Linked DNA regions of Homo sapiens. The protein of the gene in region 4 purifies or fractionates together with the protein of the main gene of each other region. This does not show direct contact. Each region holds a gene or a part of one and is shown on either strand. Other genes may lie near its edges.

Region 1 (4,416 bases), on a different chromosome or scaffold from region 4:
GAGGGCTGTGGTTTGCCAACCCCTGCTCTAGACCCACCATCAGGTTCATATGTTCTTTGGGCTGCCTAGGCTAGGCTCCCATCCCGCTCTTGATACATATATCTTTTCTTTACACAGGATAAAGGGCAGTTAATTGTTGTTAGTGGGCTTCATACAGTGACTATGATTAGGAATGAATGAAGCATTAAGTAACATTTGAACATGATATTTGAGTTTACACTGTGATGCCTTTTTTTTTTTTTTTTTGAGACAGAGTTTCGCTCTTATTGCCCAGGCTGGAGTGCAATGGTGCGATCTCAGCTCACTGCAACCTCCACCTCCTGGGTTCAAGCAATTCTCCTGCTTCAGCCTCCCGAGTAGCTGGGATTACAGGCATGTGCCTCCACACCCGGCTAATTTTTTTTTTTTTTTTTTGAGATGGAGTCTCGTTCTATTGCCCAGGCTGGAGTGCAGTGGCGCAATCTCAGCTCACTGCAAGCTCCGCCTCCCAGGTTCACGCCATTCTCCTGCCTCAGCCTCCTGAGTAGCTGGGACTACAGGCATGCACCACCACACTTGGCTAATTTTTTTTTTTTTTTTTGAGATGGAGTCTTGCTCTGTTGCCCAGGCTGGAGTGCAGTGGCACAATCTCAGCTCACTGCAAGCTCCGCCTTCCGGGTTCACGCCATTCTCCTGCCTCAGCCTCCTGAGTAGCTGGGACTACAGGTGCCTGCCACCATGCCCGGCTAATTTTTTGGTATTTTTTAAATAGAGACAGGGTTTCACCATGTTGGTCAGGCTGGTCTCGAACTCCCGACCTCAGGTGATCCGCCCACCTCAGCTTCCCAAAGTGCTGGGATTACAGGGTGAGCCACTGCGCCCGGCCAATGCCCTATCTTTTAAAAATACAGTTAAATAGGTAAAAGGCTAAGGATCCCAGAGTTCCTATTGTGTTACTTCTTGATGTGGTGGGCTGAGTCTAACAAGAAAAGTTTCTTTTTTTTTTTTTTTCCAATTTAGGGACCTGCCACTTCAGGAGAGAAAAGTTTTTTAATGTAATGTTTGATATAAAAGCATGCGTAATACACATAAAGTATAATGAACACACACATGTATATATGTGTTTATATATGCATACATATACATACACATGCTTACATAACAATCAACCTAAGAACTAGATTACTATCTCAGTGTTCTTTTTTTTTTTTTTGAGACAGATTCTTGCTCTGTCACCCAGGCTGGAGTGCAATGGCACGATCTCAGTTCACTGCAAGCTCCACCTCCCAGGTTCATGCCATTCTCCTGCCTCAGCCTCCCTAGTAGCTGGGACTACAGGCGCCCGCCATGACGCCTGGCTAAATTTTTGTATTTTTTTAGTAGAGACGGGGTTTCACCGTGTTAGCCAGGATGGTCTCGATCTCCTGACTTCGTGATCCGCCCACCTCGGCCTCCCAAAGTGCTGGGATTACAGGCGCAAGCCACCGCGCCCCGCCACCCTGTTCTTTTTTAAAATCATTCCTTTTCTCCCTCCCAGCTCCACCAGTGTATATTCCATTTTGAATTGTATAAAGCAGAATGAAATTTAATTGATATAAATGTTAACATTTTGTACTCAGTTTCAAAAAGTGATCTCCACAATTGAAAAGAAACAGAAATACTTACGGGGAAAGGGGAAACGGAAGACCTGCAGGTTTTAGCAGGTCAATTAGAATTGACTTTGTTCCAGGAAAAGCCAATTTGCTCTTAATATCATTAAGGGAAATGTGTTATCTGGACTGAGAAGTGGTGGTCATGCTCTGTTGTGTGCTGGTTAGGCCACAGCTAGAGTATTATACTTTCCTGTTGTTGTCATGTGTGTGAGAGGTATAGAAAACCAGGAATGCATTCATGGATAAGTATTCACACTAATGACACAACCTGAAAATATGCATCTGGAGGCCAGGTCATTGGGTGTGTAACTTGTGAAAGAGAACAGTCAAGAGACGTGAGAGAAGCCTTCAGCAATTTAGAGGTCATTCAGCAGAAGTGGTCCTGTGGGGCACAGTTAGGCCAGTGGAAGATGTGGGGCAGCAGCAACAGCTCCTAATCACTCTCAGGTCACAGGACCCTTTGGAAATCTGAACACTGCAGACCTTTCAGAAAAGCAGACATACCACTTGCATACCATTTCAGATTTGCAAACCCCAGGCATCCCCTGATCTCAATTTATAAGAGCTCTTGCTATATTGACAAAATATCCCACAGTCAAAAGACAGCTGACAAATTGAGAGAACATATTTGCAATGTATATCAGAGATAAAGGGTCTATATCTGTAATACATGAAGAACTCTTGAATTGAGGAATGAAGAACCAAACCCAATAGAAAAATGATAAGACTTGGGCTAGGTGTGGTGGCTCACACCTGTAATCTCAGCACTTTGGGAGGCTGAGGCGGGAGGATGATGAGGTCAAGAGATTGAGACCATCCTGGCCAACATGGTGAAACCCCATCTTTACTAAAAATGCAGAAATCAGCTGGGTATGGTGGTGCATGCCTTTAGTCCCAGCTATTCGGGAGGATGAGGCAGGAGAATTGCTTGAAACTGGGAGGCAGAGGTTGTAGTGAGCCGAGATTGTGCCACTGCACTCCAGCCTGGCGACAGAGTGAGACTCCCTTTCAAAAAAAGAAAAAGAAAAAAATGGGAAGACTTGATAATGAACTGTGTGTGTGTGTGTTTGTGTGGTGTATGTGTGTGTGTGTGTGTGGTGGTGGTGGTTAAACATAAGAGATGGTCAGCCTCGTGTAATTAGAGAAATGCAAAGTTAACCAGAGATACCACTTTTTTCCCTTTGATTTAAGGGTGTCGCTTTTTGACTATCAGATGGGTGAAAATGAAAATGTATGACAACGTATCTGGTTCAAGCAAGGCTATGAGGAAACAGACATTCTAATACATTGCTGGTGGGAATGCAAACTGATACAACCTTTCTGAGGAGCAGTTTGGCAACATTTAACAAAACTATTGGTGCCTCGACCTGTTCACCGAACACTTTAAGGAAACCTGCCTTAAAAGATAGACTTCTAGGCCTGTAATCCTAGCGCTTCGGGGGGCCGAGGCGGGTGGATCACCTGAGATCAGGAGTTCGAGACCAGCCTGGGCAACATGGTGAAAGCCTGTCTCTACTAAAAATACAGAAATCAGCTGGGCGCAGTGATGCATGGCCGTAATCCAAACTACTTGGGAGGCTGAGGCGGGAGAATCGCTTGAACCCCAAAGGCGGAGGTTGCAGTGAGCCAAGATGGCACCACTGCACTCCAGCCTGAGTGACAGAGCGAGACTCCGTCTCAAAAAAAAAAAAAAAAAAAAAAAACAGTGGCCAGGCGCGGTGGCTCACACCTGTGATCCCAGCACTTGCGAGTACGAAATGGGTGGATTGCCTGAGGTCTGAGGTCAGGAGTTCGAGACCAGCCTGGCCAACCTGGTGAAACCCCCATCGCTACTAAAAATACAAAAAATTAGCCGGGCGTGTGGCGGTCGCCTGTAATCCCAGCTACTCGGGAGGTTGAGGCAGGAGAATAGTTTGAACCCAGAAGAAAGGGTTGTAGTGAGCCGAGATTGCACCATTGTCACTCCAGCCTGGGTGACAAGAGCAAAACTCTGTCTCAAAAAAAAAAAAAAAAGATACACTTCTAGCAGTATAACAATACTTAATACACAAGGTTGTTCTTTTCAGCAGTTTTTAATTGCAAAATATTGGAAACAACCTAAATGCCCATATATAGGAGAGAGATTGAATACATTATGGCATAAGGTATTTACATACATGGAGTATTATCCAGCTATAATAACAAGGAAGATCTCTATATACTGATATGGAGTGATTTCCAGGTGTGTCAGGGGTCCCCAAAACCAGCAGGTTTTCAGAGTTGCTGAAACTCACAGGACTCAGCATTTAGTTGTTCTCACAGCTACAGTTTATTGCAGTGAAAGGATACAAAGAAAATCAGCAAAAGGGAAGCAGGCATAGACCAAAGTCCAGAGGAAATCCAGTGCAAGCTTCCAAGAGTCCTTTCCTAGTGGAGTCATACACACTTAACCTCCTTCAGGAACAAATTGTGACAACACGTATGAAATATTGTCTACCATGGAAGTTTGTTAGTGGGTCAGTGCTCAGGGATTTTACTGGGGACTGGTTGCATGGACATCCTCTGCCTGGCACATAGCAAAATTTCCAACTCCTAGAAGGAAAGCAGGTGTTTAGCATAAACCACGTTATAGTGTAGGCACAGTGAGACACTCCTGTTTAGGGAATGGTGGAAACTCCCAAACTCTAGTTCCCAGATGCTAGCTAAGGCTGACCCTGCAGGTAGACCTTTCTAAGGACAGCAGTCAGGCCTGCTCTGTTGACTCACTTCTGTAAACTAAGATATGCTGTTAAGTAAAAAATGCAAA
Region 2 (4,416 bases), on a different chromosome or scaffold from region 4:
AGCTTCTGCCAACAATTTGGAGGTGGTAAAGATCAGACAAATGACTAAAATAAGATTTAAGGCTGTGTTTTATGTCAACTGTCCATGCTACCCATGCAAGCTTGTGCAATCTGCCTTTTGTTGTTGTTTTCTGTTTTGTTTTGTTTTGGGCTTTTAGCAGCTGGAAGCCATAGTTTTTAGTTTCCGTCCCTACTAATAAGCAGAAAAGAGAGATAAGGAAGGTGCTTTACTAGCCCAACCAGAAACAGAAACTGAGAATCCATGATTGTATTCTCTCCCTTGGACACCCCTGGATGGCTTTCAGGATCTGGGGTGAGGTGGTAGAGAGAGGAGGGAGGATATCCCCTAAGGGAGCTAAAATGCATTTATTTCTGTTAAAACTATCAGGCTCGCATATAAGTCCCCAAAGGAAGGAAAGGTTTATTTTGAGAAAGTTGCCTCAGGCACCTGCAATACACAATAATAACTTGCTGGTTTTTGTAAAGAACATGGGTATATCATTTTAGACAAGCAATATGGACTATCAATATAATTAATTATCTAAGAGTCAAAAGACCCAAATTCTAGTTTCAGCTTAAAAGCAGACTCTGGGGGTCAGACAAATCTAGATTTGGATCTTTGCTCTTCCTGGCCAAGTGATCTTAAACAAGTTTCTTCACCTCTCAGGGCCTTAGTTTAATTTGTAAATTGTGAATTATATATTCTACGTGCCTGGTTCAAAGAGCAGTAATGAAAATCAAAGGAAATAATACATATATAACCATTATACCAGTATAGAACTAAAATATAAATTAGGGAGCATAACTGAAAGAATGATTAAATTATTTCTAGTACTTTGGAAGTGATCTTTTGCTAATTTATTTTATTTGAAAACTTGGCACAAATGCAATATCATTAAACAAATTTTCAATCAGAATTCTAAAAAAAAAAAAAACACCACACACACACACACACACACACACACACACGTACAGCACTTTTAGAGGCCAAGGCAAGAGGACTGCTTGATCCCAGGAGTTTGAGACAAGCCTCCACCACCTAACCCTGGATCCTGAAAGCCATCCAGGGGTGTCCAAGGGACAGAATACAGTCATGGGTTCTTAGTTTCTGTTTCTGGTTGGAACATAGGGAGACCTCGTCTCTACAAAAAATAAAAAATGAGCCGAGCATGATGGCGTGCATCTGTGATCCTGGCTAGTTGGGAGGCTGAGGTGGGAGGATCACTGGGGTCCCAGGGTTCGAGGCTGCAGGGAGCCATGAATGCGTCACTGCACTCCAGCCTGGGTGACACTTAGACTCTGTCTCAAAACAAACAAACAAACAAATATCTGCTTATTCCTCTACTGTAGATTAAAATTATTAAATTTTTTTTTTTTACCTGGCAATTATTCAGCTCTTGAATAACTTCCTTGTTTTCTTTACTGATGTCACATACACAGATGAATTCTGCTTCTCTGTGGCCTTTAAAAAACTTCTCACGGATTCTTTGCACAACAGCAGTTGCTGACCGGCCAGAGGGAACGGAGCAGTTTTCAATATCCCAAAAAACTCCAATGGGGGGTAAGTTTTCTAGCACCTGTCCAGCTACTGCAACTTCTGGTGACCCTTAAGAAATGTTAACATTTTCAATTACTTGTAGTGGAAAATAAATGGCAAGTTACAATAAGATAATAAACTACCTATCATTCTCAGTGGTAGAAAAACTAAATTATTAATGAATGCCAAGTTTTAAGGCTACCAACCTCACTGGTTGACCTAATAAGCAATCAAGCTGTCAAAAAGTATCACTCTAAGAGATTATTTCTGTTTTTCAGGAGAAGACAAATCTAAAAGTCAAGTAACTTTAAGCCCACAATAAATCCACCTCCAAGCATGAGCCACTCTGACATTAAGCAGTGATGCTTCTCTGAACACAAGCACACTAACTGACCGGATACTGCAGCTCCAGGACCCGACTTTCAAGCTTAGCCCACACTTATCTACCTACTTGGTAGTAACCAACACTGAGGAGCTGACAAAGGGTGAAGCTGTTACTGTCGTTGATTTTGAGTTAACGCTGCATTAACATCTGATTTAATATTTTAAAAATGTTTTCAAAACGTCGCATTAACTACTTTTTAGGGAAATTATTTTAACTGAGAACTCTTTGGTTTTCAAATACTGTTTTTAATCAGCCATTAGTAAATTGTTCTAAGCACTTCTAGGGAGTATACCATCAACAAGTGTGATTTCCAACCTAAGGTGACACCAAGTCTTTTCCAGCACTTTTATTTCTCCTGATATACTACCAATTTTTCTATACACAGCTTCTGTGTATAGCCTCGGCCCAACATAAAGGGCAAATGACTTCCTGGTCCATAATAATAAAAAGATTTCTACCAAGATATGGAATTGGAGACTCACATACACAGTAGCTTTAGAACCATAAGGAATCCTTCAAAGGTGATTAAATGCAATGTTAGTATGAGATATTGAAAGCTATTTAAATATGCACATTTTATGCCATACTGTCATTTACCAAATTTTGAAGCAGCTTTGCCTAGACTGGTCGCCAATAACAACGTGGTCTCCTTCCCTGTTCCTTTGGTTCCACAGCCATTACACAGAGGGACAGCAAGAGGTGCAGGTTGAGTATTTGGAGGTGGTATATTTGGCCAGACTTTAGCCGCATCGATTATGCTATTTCTTGCTGGCTGTTTTAAATTTTTTTTAAAAAGGAGGAGGTGTCAGATACATCATTTCAGAAGCTGGAGTTATATACAACAACTGAAAATACACTCTAAGTGTTTTACCTTTCCACTTGCTAGCCTCTAATAAAAAGGACTTTCAAATAATCTTTCCAAGAACCATTAGCTATCAGTTCATAAATTCATTTCCAGAAGTGACTTGACATGATCAAGAAAGATATTCACGTGGTCAGATCTTTACATTCTGGGGCATGAGTCTGCTGCAACGAAGACCTCACACATATTTTACATAAAGGGTAGCAAAGTCTCACTTGAACACCAATGTGACTGAGGCCAAGCTTCAGGTTTCCCACATTATTGCAAAAAGACAACATGCAGTTATCTACCTTACATGAATGGGCCCATGTGTAAGCTGAATGTAAGTTATAAAAAATCCATCGTGCTTTAGCCTTTAAACATAGAACACGAAGGCTTTGCCAACCTCTTGTTTGCAACAAGAGGCTCTAAAAGTATAAACTACAAAAATAATGACTCTCTACTTTTTTGAATGATCTCCCATCTTACCCTTTGTTTCTTTCAGAACCAGCAAAAATTATGCTGATGGGGAGATTCCCCTATACCATGGGAGAATCTTCAACCCCATGTATAATACTTTTCAAGATAAATCCACTTCAAAAGTCATTCCTCAATCCTCAGCTGCACCCAACTTAAGAAATAAAAAGATACGAACCTTGTTTAGACAGTCTTCGCAGTAAAGTGAGCCCTTTAAACAAACCGGAGGTACCACATTAAGGTGCAAAGAGTTGGTGCACAAGTGAGGCGTTAGCTCCGACTGTGAAATGTGCTCTTCCAAATGCCCTGGAGCCCCGCTTGTGAAATCAGAACAGGGGAAATAGCCAGCGGAGGTGCAGCCCTGCAGACTCGGAAACTGATGCAGCTTGTGCACATTACCATGACATGACTGGAAGTGGAGTTTTCCACAACAGGGCAGGTGTTTGCAGGAAGACAGGTTACTCTCTAGACACATGCTGGGAAAGTCACTTGCAATGCCTGCCAAATTGTTCCTAGCTGAGGCATTCTGGAGTGAAGATGCAGACTGGAAAGCAAACCCTGACCCTACCTGACACGTGATTGTCCTGGTGCTTTGCGAGTCTAACAGTGCGCCCGGGTGAATCAAGCTACTGGTACCTCCGCTACCGCCACCACCACCACCAAAACGCATTGGCGAAGTGGAGGGTTCATTAGGGCAATGAGCACAGCAGCTTACTTTGGGGACAGAAGAAAGCTGTATTTTAGGCTGCTGAAGAGAACGAATATCAGGAAGTGGGACTGCTGGAAAAAGCTTAGAGCCAGCATGAAGGGGTGATGGTACATCCTTTAGTTCCACAGCAACTTTCTTGTTCTCCATGTACTCTTTCTGAGAAAAGAAAATCAGAACATAAATTAATTTTATGAGGTCCGTGGTTTTTTGGTTACTCATATCTTACTGCATGCACAAACAGAAATAGTGTTCAATTCTGTTACATCACTAAATCATAACTGAACAAAATGGAATCACAGCTAGTTAAAACCAGGAACATTCTTCAGAGAGGTCTGCAGGACATGAACACTGGAACACACAACTAAAATTAAGACTACATTCTTCCTGAATTGAAACAGACTGGGGTGGGAGGGCCTGTTTACATCTTTAGCAGCCACCATGCCTCAGTAACTTCCTTTTGGTAATTTC
Region 3 (4,416 bases), on a different chromosome or scaffold from region 4:
AGCACTGGACCTAAAAGCTTTTTCATAAACTCACCCACACAGCTCACCGGGATGAAATCATTAGCTCTCCTGCCACATCACAATTATCCATACTTCCAACACTAGCACAAGTTAACTGGTAACTACCATGGCAGCAGCACAACTTACTTTCAGGAGAGCCTTCGCTTTCCAGTCGGAGTTTATTTAGGCGCTCTTCTTCCTAGAATTTAGACAAAAGTTTTCCAAGAACACAAGTTAGAATTCCCAGATGCTTGCAAAAGTCCATATGCTGGCTGAGTAATCTGACTCCCTCAAAGCCAACTCCTCCAGTTGGGGTCAGTGCATCATTGGGAGAATATTCTAGGTCATAGGGCCAAACGCCTGACTCCTGCTTACTAAGCAGCATTAGCATCACAGGTGCCCATCCATTGTTCACAAAATTAACCCAGTGAGCTGGCTTCCAAACTGACAAGTGACCTTGGAATCTTAAAGCTGGAAAGGACATCCAGAAGATCTGTCGCAGTCAGAGAAATAAAACAGAAGTTTAAGGCAGGAGGTAGACTGCTATTTTATTTTTCAAGACTTCTAGAATTTTAGTATAATTTTTCCAGAAGCTAAGATCATGTTTCCAACATCACTATGAACTCACGTTTAGCTTAACAGAGATACAGATGGATCCATACAGAAATATTTACAGGTGTATGTGTATGCATGGGTTACTATCCAAACATATATTTTCTTGTTCTGTCAGTGAAGAGAACTTAAAGGCAATGGCAACCTGGTAGCAATGAGCATACCCGGCACCCAGATCTTGGTTTCCAATGCTATTCCACAATAAGAACAGAGATGCTTGAAGAAATGGCTGTTCCAGGGCTGGAGCAGGAAACATACATGCAAGATAAGCCTGGAGCAGCTTATACTGCCAGAAAGTAAGGAAGTGCTCAAAAAAAAAAAAAAAAACAGTCCCATAATGATGGCGCTTTCTCAAAAAGATACAAAAGCCAAATGAAAGATGGGCAGGATGAGGACATAACCAAAGGCCAGTTAGTGCCAAAGCTGGAAGAATTTGAGCAACAAAATAAATAATATTAGATTATAACTCAAAGTATAAAATAAATACCCATGTACTCACATGATATAAATGATTGAATAAATAAATGGGAGACAATAGACATGCATAATTATTCTCCTATGCAGAAGAATTCCAAATAAATTATGTAGATACTCCCTCCATCTAAAGGACAGGAAGCATAACTCCCTGCTCCTTAAATGTAGGCTACACATAGTGACTTCCTTCCAAGGAGAGCCAAGAGGAAAATAACCTTATGGTAGAGAAACCTGATAAGCGTCACCTCAAGCCAGCTAACCCATGGTTAATATCAACAGTGATGTGTCACGTTGACAGTATGTACTTTTTTTTTTTTTTTTTGAGACTCTCGCTCTGTTGCCCAGGCTGGAGTGCAGTGGCGTGATCTCGGCTCACGGCAAGCCCCGCCTCCCGAGTTCACGCCATTCTCCTGCCTCAGCCTCCTGAGCAGCTCCGACTACAGGCATGCACCACCACGCCCGGCTAATTTTTTGTATTTTTAGTAGAGACAGGGTTTCACTGTGCTAGCCAGGATGGTCTCTATCTCCTGACCTCGTGATCCACGCACCTTGGCCTCCCAAAGTGCTGGGATTACAGGCGTGAGCCACCGTGCCCGGCCGTATGTACTCTTGATATGATGTGATAAGAATTGCACTTTACTTCAGTGGTCTTCTCCTCAACATCTATCACCTTAGTCTAGTTGTAAGAGAAACATCAGACAGATTTCAACCGAAGGAAAGTCTATAAAATACATAGCCAATACTTCTTGAAAATCACATCACCAGGTCTTTAAATGAATTTGTAACTTTGTAGCTATTCTTTCAGACCGAGAGGTATCTGAAGTGGCCTGAATAACGTGGGTTCCCCATGATTTGTCCTCAATGGCTAGATCCTAGGATCCTTACTAACCTTAGCTCTGAGCTCCATTTCCGCATCAGATTCATCCAGCCAACGATCAAAGTCAGGAGCCAAAAACAGTGGTCGCTTTTCCTGCTTTGTGAGTCTCTCCCACCACTGACTCACTTTCTTCTGTACTGTAATGTTTACCTGCCTCTGGGTCAGTTTGTAAACAGGCTAGGAGAGAAAGTGAAAATGTGAGAATGCCCTCTTCTGTTCCCTGAAGCAGCACCATGCCAGGGGCGCCGTACATAGAAGCTGCAGGATATATTTATTCTCCTTCTTTCTCTGGTCCTGCAAGTCCTGATGCAAAGGGAACATCTAGACCAGGGGTCTCCAACTCCTGGGCCATGGACTGATACTGGTCCATGGCCTGTTGGGAATCGGGCCACACAGGAGGAGCTGAGTGGTGGGCAAGTGAGTGAAACTTCACCTATATTTAGACTCGCTCTCCATCACTTGCATTACTGCCTAAGCCCTGCCTCCTGTCAGATCAGCATTGGCACAAGATTCACATAGGAGCGTGAACTCTATTGTGAATTGTGCATGCAAGGAATCTAGGTTGCTCACTCTTTATGAGACTATAATGCCTGATGATCTGTCACTGTCTCCCATCACCCCCAGATGGGACTGTCTAGTTGCAAGAAAACAAGCTCAGGGCTCTCACTGATTCTACATTATGGTGAGTTGTATTCATTATATATTACAATGTAATAATAACAGAAATAAAGTGCACAACAAATGTAATGCATTTGAATCACCCTGAAACCATCCCCATTCCACCATCTGTGGAAAAAGTGCCTTCCACAAAATTGGTCCCTGGTGCCAAAAAGGTTGATCTAGACCAACGGCTGGCATGGAGAACTGGTAAGGACATAATGTCCTTCTCTGATTCCCCCAGTGAATGATACAGGAGGATATCAGGATAAGAAAGGCAAATAGTTCCTGGTTAGGCTGGAGGGAACTAGCATGAACCTCCTGCCACAGCCACATCATGCAAGGTACTATGTCCAATCACCCTCTCAAGGGTACTGCATCCAATTACCCTCAGCTTATAAATTTTCCTCCCATGAAAATGACTGTCCTGGCTCAGCAGACCCCGGTTTTAGAAACACCTGCATCAAGATCAGAACTGTATTGGATCAGTTACAGATTTTTTCACAGGGGTCAATTTGGGGAGTCTTCCCAACTAAACTCAAATTCTTATAGGCCATTCCAGCTCATTGTTTGTCTACATGTCCTGTCCCTTTTCTCCAAAGGAAGCTCCATGACAGGTTCTCTGCCCACTGTACCACTGGTTATTATTCATGCTTTCTCAAAACAACTGAGCACCTGCGCACGGAAATCAAGAAGCTCAAGCCACCAGAGCTAAGTGTAATTCCAGAAGCCAAAATACCCCATCTATTGGATTCTCTCCCTGCTTATGAGAGAAGCTTCCTCAGGCTCTAAGGGAAGGGAAGTTTTGATGATATCTGCAGCATTCTTTCTGAAGGCCAGCTGCCTTCACCCTTTCTGATTTCTATTTTTCTCACCTGCAACTGTGGCAAAGTCACATGAAAGTAACCCCTGGTGGGGGCTTCAACCACTCTATGTAACTCTGTTCTCAATGGGTGCCATATTCCTCTGCCATCACTAAAACCAGAGAATATCAGAGCTGGAAGGATCACTTAGTCCAGACCTTCATTTAACACATGAGAACACCAGAACTCGAAGAAGTTAAGAGACTTGTTCAAGATCACACTGCTAATAAATGGCAGGGCCCTGACTCAACTTGGGGTCTCTGACTTTCCCATTCCTCTGCAGCTAAAACCTGGGCTCTGTTCCAAATAAAAGAACTCTATTATTCCCCTTTGGTTTTTATCTTCTTCTCTCCACAAACCCTGCTCCCCATTTCACTAAACTACTGGTATTCATTTCCTAAAATGGGAAGGGAAGTGAGAAAGGAAAGAACATACCTCTGGTTTCACAAGGTCTAAGAACTCCAGGTGAAATTCATAGACATTGTCTCCTTTGGCACCATGTCCTTGAGCTATAAAGAAAGAAATGTGGGTTACTGCAAACTTGAGCAGAGCAAGGCCATCCAAAAGCCAGCTTGGTGCAGTTCTTTCCCAAGTATGCGAATATTACACTTTTTTTTTTTTGAGACAGAGTCTTGCTCTGTTGCCCAGGCTGGAGTGCAGTGGCATGATCTCGGCTCACTGCAAGCTCCGCCTCCCGGGTTCATGCCATTCTCCTGCCTCAGCCTCCCGAGTAGCTGGGACTACAGGCTCCCGCCACCATGCCCAGATAATTTTTTTTATTTTTAGTAGAGACGGGGTTTCACCGTGTTAACCAGGATGGTCTCGATCTCCTGACCTTGTGATCCACCCGCCTCAGCCTCCCAAAGTGCTGGGATTACAGACATGAGCCACTGTACCTGGCACGAATATCATACTTGATTGTAGCCAAAAGGC
Region 4 (5,334 bases):
TGTAATCTCAGCACTTTGGGAGGTCGAGGTGGGCGGATCACCTGAGGTGGGAAGTTCGAGACCAGCCTGACCAACATGGAAAAACCCCATCTCCACTAAAAACACAAAATTAGCCAGGCGTGGTGGTGCATGCCTGTAGTCCCAGCTACTCGGGAGGCTGAGGCAGGAGAATCACTTGAACACGGGAGGCGGAGGTTCCAGTGAGCCGAGATCGCACCACTGCACTCCAGCCTGGGCAACAAAGAGCGAAACTCCATCTCAAAAAAAAAAAAAACAAAAACAAAAACTAGTCAGGTGTGGTGGTGCATGGTCGTAGTCCCAGTTACTTGGGAGGCTGAGGTGGGAGGATTTTGAGCCCAGGAGGTCGAGGTATCAGTGAGCTATAATTGCACCACTGTACTCCAGCCAGGGTGACAGAGAAAGACCCTGTCTGAAAAAGAAAAAAACAAAAACAAAAACAAAAGAAAAAGAATGAGGGGACCGGGCACGGTGGCTCATGCCTGTAATCCCAGCACTTTGGGATGCCAAGGCAGGTGAATCATCTGAGGTTAGGAGTTTGAGACCAGCCTGACCAACATGATGAGACCCCTCTTCTCTAATAAAAATATAACAATTAGCCAGGTGTGGTGGTGGGTGCCTGTAATTCCAGCTACTCAGGAGGCTGAGGCAGGAGAATCACTTGAACCCGGGAGGCGGAGGTTATAGTGAGCCAAGATTGCGCCACTGCACTCCGGCCTGGGCGACAAGAGCGAAACTCTGTCTAAAAGAAAAAGAATGAGGGGACTGGAGCTAGCACTGCTGAGTCATGTGGGAGGATAGGGCTAGGGACTCCAGGGTCTCACCCATGGGCTCCCAGCCTGCCAGTGCCTCCTCCTGGGTGGATGCCTGGATTGCATGGTAGTGGAGCAGCTGCTGGGCCAGCTGGACGTCCCCGTCTCGAACCTCTCGAACAGCCCGCCCAGTCACCAGGGATTCCAGGGTCCACAGCAGCCGCTGGTGCTTCTGGATCACCTCGGCCAGCCTGTCGAGAAAGCAAGAGGGTGCTCATTTTCCAACGGCCCTCAGCCTTGCAGAGTCCTGGGCTGCTCCTATATACCTGGACTACAATCCCCATGAGCCCCTGAGGCATCCCCACCATTTACCTGGGGCAGAGGGCAGTGAAGATTTATGAGAATTATAGTCATGGAAACACAAACCCTGAGGATGCTGTGTAAAGGTCTTGGCCGCCGGAAATCCCTGAAGCTTTTGGGAAATTGAGTCTTAGCTTCTAACCTCAATTGCGTTTTGGGAAATGGAATTTTTGTCTCTAGCTTCCCCGCAAGCGGCTAGGAAATGGATTTAGGGGCTTCACCAGCCCCAGTGAACTGAGCCCCAATGCACTCCAAGAATGTCCTGGGAAATAGAGGCTTTGTGGCTTCTAGTCCCAGTGAATAGTGGACAACGGATGCATGTTTCAGCCACGACTGCCTCCAGCACATACTGGGAATCTGAGCCTTAGCTGCAAATTAATTCAGTGGGATCTTGGGAAATAGCCTTTGTTCCCATGGTCTCGAGTGGATGCTGGGGTTCCCCGCCTCCCGGGGTCCACACCTCAGCTGCATCACCTGGTCAGGTGCTGGGCCCGGACGACGCCGGGGTGCGCACTCCAGCCCTTAAATGCCATCCTGGCTGCCTCCACGGCTGCAGCCACATCCTCGGCCTGTGCCTGCAGGCAACTGGCCAAGTTCTCTCCTGGGGAGAAAAGTGGGGGGACTCAGATGGGAGGAGTAGCCCATGTCATATCTGGAGGGGGCTGAGATTTTCGGAGCCTGGATCAGCCCAAGAGTGTAAAGCTGGTCCCCATTCTCTGCTGGGTCACGGCTATGATCACCTCCAGGGCAAGGAAGCTATTTTAACAGACAGCAGTCTCACAAAGCCTCCACAGAGACCCGGAACCATAATTAGGGTGACTGGTTTCAGAAGGAACCAGACATCGCAGCCCATCTCCCACCACCAGCTGTTTCCTGCCCTCAGGGCCCTAGGCAAGGGGAATGGGTGTTGGTGGGTAGGGCTAGAGGGCACAGATACCTCCCTTCCACTAATGACTGGGGGACATCTCGTACCTGTGATGGGATCCTGGCAAGGCACTGAATTTCTGTGTTCAGGCTTTAACCACTTCCCATTCACATAGTGGCCCAAGCACCGGTCCTGGGTGTCCAGCCAGGCCTGGGGGAGGTAGAGACAGTTTGGAAAGGGGTTCGGGAGGAGCTGGGGCAGTTCAACCCCTACCCAGAATCCTCTAGGAGGGGACGTCTGTCTCCCTCTGCCCCATCAGCTAATTCTTTTCCTCCTATTGCTTTAAAAAAAAAGTTTGTGGTAAAATAGAGCATTTCAAAGTGTATAGTTCAGCAGTTTAGTGGCATTCTGTGCATTTACAGTGTTGTGTAACCATCACCACTCTAGTTCTAGAACATTTTTTCATTTTTTTTTTTTGAGACTGAGTCTTGCTCTGTCACCCAGGCTGGAGTGCAGTGGCATGATCTCAGCTCACTGCAAGCTCCGCCTCCTGGGTTCACGCTATTCTCCCGCCTCAATCTCCTGAGTAGCTGGGACTACAGGCGCCCGCCACCACATGCGGCTAGTTTTGTTTTTGTATTTTTAGTAGAGACGGGGTTTCACCATGTTGGTCAGGCTGGTCTTGAACTCCTGACCTCAAGTGATCTGCACGCCTTGGCCTCCCAAAGTGCTGGGATTATGGATGTGTCAACATCTTTAATTCATTCAATTAGGGTCTCAACTGAGTCCTTGGGCTGGTGCCACAACAGTGGCACCTATTTGGAGTCCACTTTGGGAGGCCGAGGTGGTCTGAGCCTAGGCATTCAAGACCAGCCTGGGCAACATGGTGAAAGCTCATCTCTACAAAAAATACAAAAAGTTAGCCGGGTGTGGTGGTGAGTGCCTGTAGTCCCAGCTACCTGGGAGTCTGAGGTGGGAGGATCACTTGAGCCCAGGAGGTAGAGGCTGTAGTAAGCCAAGATCACGCCACTGCACTCCAGCCTGAGTAACAGAGCAAGGCTCTGTCTCAAAGAAAAAAAATTTTTTTACCACATCTCACTCACCACATCTCCTCCATATTTCTTTCTTTCTTTTTTTTTTTTTTGTTTGAGACAGAGTCTTGCTCTGTCACCCAGGCTGGAGTGCAGTGGCGCGATCTCTGCTCACTGCAAGGTCCGCCTCCTGGATTCACGCCATTCTCCTGCCTCAGGCTCCCGAGTAGCTGGGACTACATGCGCCTGCCACCACGCCTGGCTAATTTTTTTGTATTTTTAGTAGAGATGGGGTTTCACTGTGTTAGCCAGGATGGTCTTGATCTCCTGACCTCGTGATCCGCCCGCCTCGGCCTCCCAAAGTGCTGAGATTACAGGCGTGAGCCACTGCGCCCGGACTTCTCCTCCATATTTCTTTCTCATCCTGGTCACGTCTTCCCTGATGCTAAATCCAAAGCACACTGCTCACTTGCTCCTTCTACAGACTCCCCTAGCATCTCTGATGTCACATATTCCTGATTTTTCTCTTACTGGCCCTTCTTTCTTTTTTTTTTTTGAGATGGAGTCTTGCTCTTGTCTCCCAGGCTGGAGTGCAATGGTGCGATCTCAGCTCACTGCAACCTCCGCCTCCTGGGTTCACGTGATTCTCCTACCTCAGCCTCCCAAGTAGCTGGGATTACAGGCGGCCGCCACCATGCCCAGCTAATTTATATATTTCTAGTAGAGATGGGTTTTTACCATGTTGGCCAGGCTGGTCTCGAACTCCTGGCCTCAGGTGATCCACTCGCCTCGGCCTCCCAAAGTGCTGGGATTACAAGCATGAGCCACTGTGCCTGGCTTCTCCTTTCTCTTTAAAGCAAAAAAGTTACTTAGAAGTTCCAAACTCAAACGCCCACAGGGAGAGAGACATCTGTGAGAAAGTCAGGGATATTTGAACATGAACTGGGCATCAGATGACATTAAAGAATGATTGTTGGCCGGGCATGGTAGCTCACATCTGTAATCCCTGCACTTTCCCACGCTGAGACGGGAGGATTGCTTGAGCTGAGGAGTTTGAGACTAGTCTGGACCTACACAGCAAGACCCCATCTCTACAAAAATAAAAGTAAAAAATTTGCCAGTCATGATGATGCACACTTGTAGTCTCAGCTAGTCAGGAGGCTGGGGTGGGAGGATTGCTTGGGTCCAGGAGTTTCAGGCTGCAGTGAGCTATGAACGCTACTGAATGCTAGCCTGGGCGACAGAGTAAGATCCTGTCTCAAACAAACAAACAAAAAACAAAAAGAATGACTTAATGTTAAGTGTGGTAACAGACCATGGTAGTTTTGTAACAAAATGAGCCCTTATCTGTTAGAAGAAAGGATTCAAATATTTATAGGAAAATACTGTGACATCCAGGATTTGTTTAAATTACTCCAAAGAAAATACAGAAGGAAACAGCGCTGGGATAAATGTTGATGATGGTTGAGGCACAGTGATGGGTAAACAGGAGTTCAAAATAAATGCTAATTATTCTGTGCAAGTTGGAAAGCTTCCCCCCAAAAGAAAAACAAAATTCCAAAAGAATGTCCAGAGGGTTCCAGGAGGCCTGAGAAGAGGGCCTGGATGAGAAGAGGAGCTTAACGATTCATGGAAAAGACAGGAGCTATTGGTCCCAGATGACTTTTGTCAGGGAAGTTGAGCCAAATGTTGACACATTTTGGAATTTTATTTTCAAGAGGACCTCCCGGATGTTTACATGGAATCAATTGTCCAGCATTTCACATAAAAAAAAAATAAAGTTCACGCCAAAGAAAACATGTTTGTTGGTTGAGTCTGGCCCAGAGACTGTACGGTTGAGAACTTTGCTGGTGTAGGCAAGACCACGGGTCTGAAATGCAAGGACTCAAGTCCAAGTCTCAACTTCACTTTTTATGTTTTATTTTTATATTAATAGAGATAGGGCCTCACCATGTTGCCCAGGCTGGTCTCAAACTCCTAGGTGCGAGTGATCCTCCTGCCTCGGTCTCCCAAACTGCTGGGATTACAGGTGTGAGCCACTTGCCTGGCCTCAACTTCTTTTTTTTTCAGGGGGGACAGGGTCTTATTCTGTCACCCAGGCTGGAGTTCAGTGGTATGATCACTGCACCTCCCAGGCTCAGGTGATCCTCCCACCTCAGCCTCCCGGGTAGCTGGGACTACAGGTGTGTGCTGCCATCCTCGGCTAATCTTTTGTTTTCTGTTTCCTTTTTTTTTTTTTTTTTTTTTTGAGATGGAGTTTTGCTCTTGTTGCCCAGGCTGGAGTGCAGTGGCGTGGTCTCGGCTCACT

What was found.
Region 1: the proteins of ALDH16A1 (region 4) and PRR14L purify together in Homo sapiens (affinity purification with mass spectrometry; one large-scale study listed by BioGRID and IntAct). This does not show direct contact.
Region 2: the proteins of ALDH16A1 (region 4) and MARF1 purify together in Homo sapiens (affinity purification with mass spectrometry; one large-scale study listed by BioGRID and IntAct). This does not show direct contact.
Region 3: the proteins of ALDH16A1 (region 4) and HACD3 fractionate together in Homo sapiens (co-fractionation; one large-scale study listed by BioGRID). This does not show direct contact.

The regions. Positions count from the first base shown.
Region 1 is NC_000022.11:31,732,217-31,736,632, reverse strand, and holds part of PRR14L (protein PRR14L), read left to right. Parts: intron 1-4,416.
Region 2 is NC_000016.10:15,632,239-15,636,654, forward strand, and holds part of MARF1 (meiosis regulator and mRNA stability factor 1), read right to left. Parts: intron 4,105-4,416; coding exon 3,418-4,104; exon of another isoform or gene 3,268-3,417; intron 2,694-3,267; coding exon 2,519-2,693; intron 2,022-2,518; exon of another isoform or gene 1,772-2,021; intron 1,606-1,771; coding exon 1,379-1,605; intron 1-1,378.
Region 3 is NC_000015.10:65,554,463-65,558,878, reverse strand, and holds part of HACD3 (very-long-chain (3R)-3-hydroxyacyl-CoA dehydratase 3), read right to left. Parts: intron 3,993-4,416; coding exon 3,919-3,992; intron 2,141-3,918; coding exon 1,976-2,140; intron 200-1,975; coding exon 148-199; intron 1-147. UniProt on the Homo sapiens protein: Catalyzes the third of the four reactions of the long-chain fatty acids elongation cycle. This endoplasmic reticulum-bound enzymatic process, allows the addition of two carbons to the chain of long- and very long-chain fatty acids/VLCFAs per cycle.
Region 4 is NC_000019.10:49,455,357-49,460,690, reverse strand, and holds part of ALDH16A1 (aldehyde dehydrogenase family 16 member A1), read right to left. Parts: intron 3,876-5,334; exon of another isoform or gene 3,768-3,875; coding exon of another isoform or gene 3,765-3,767; intron 2,206-3,764; coding exon 2,103-2,205; intron 1,732-2,102; coding exon 1,605-1,731; intron 1,022-1,604; coding exon 843-1,021; intron 1-842.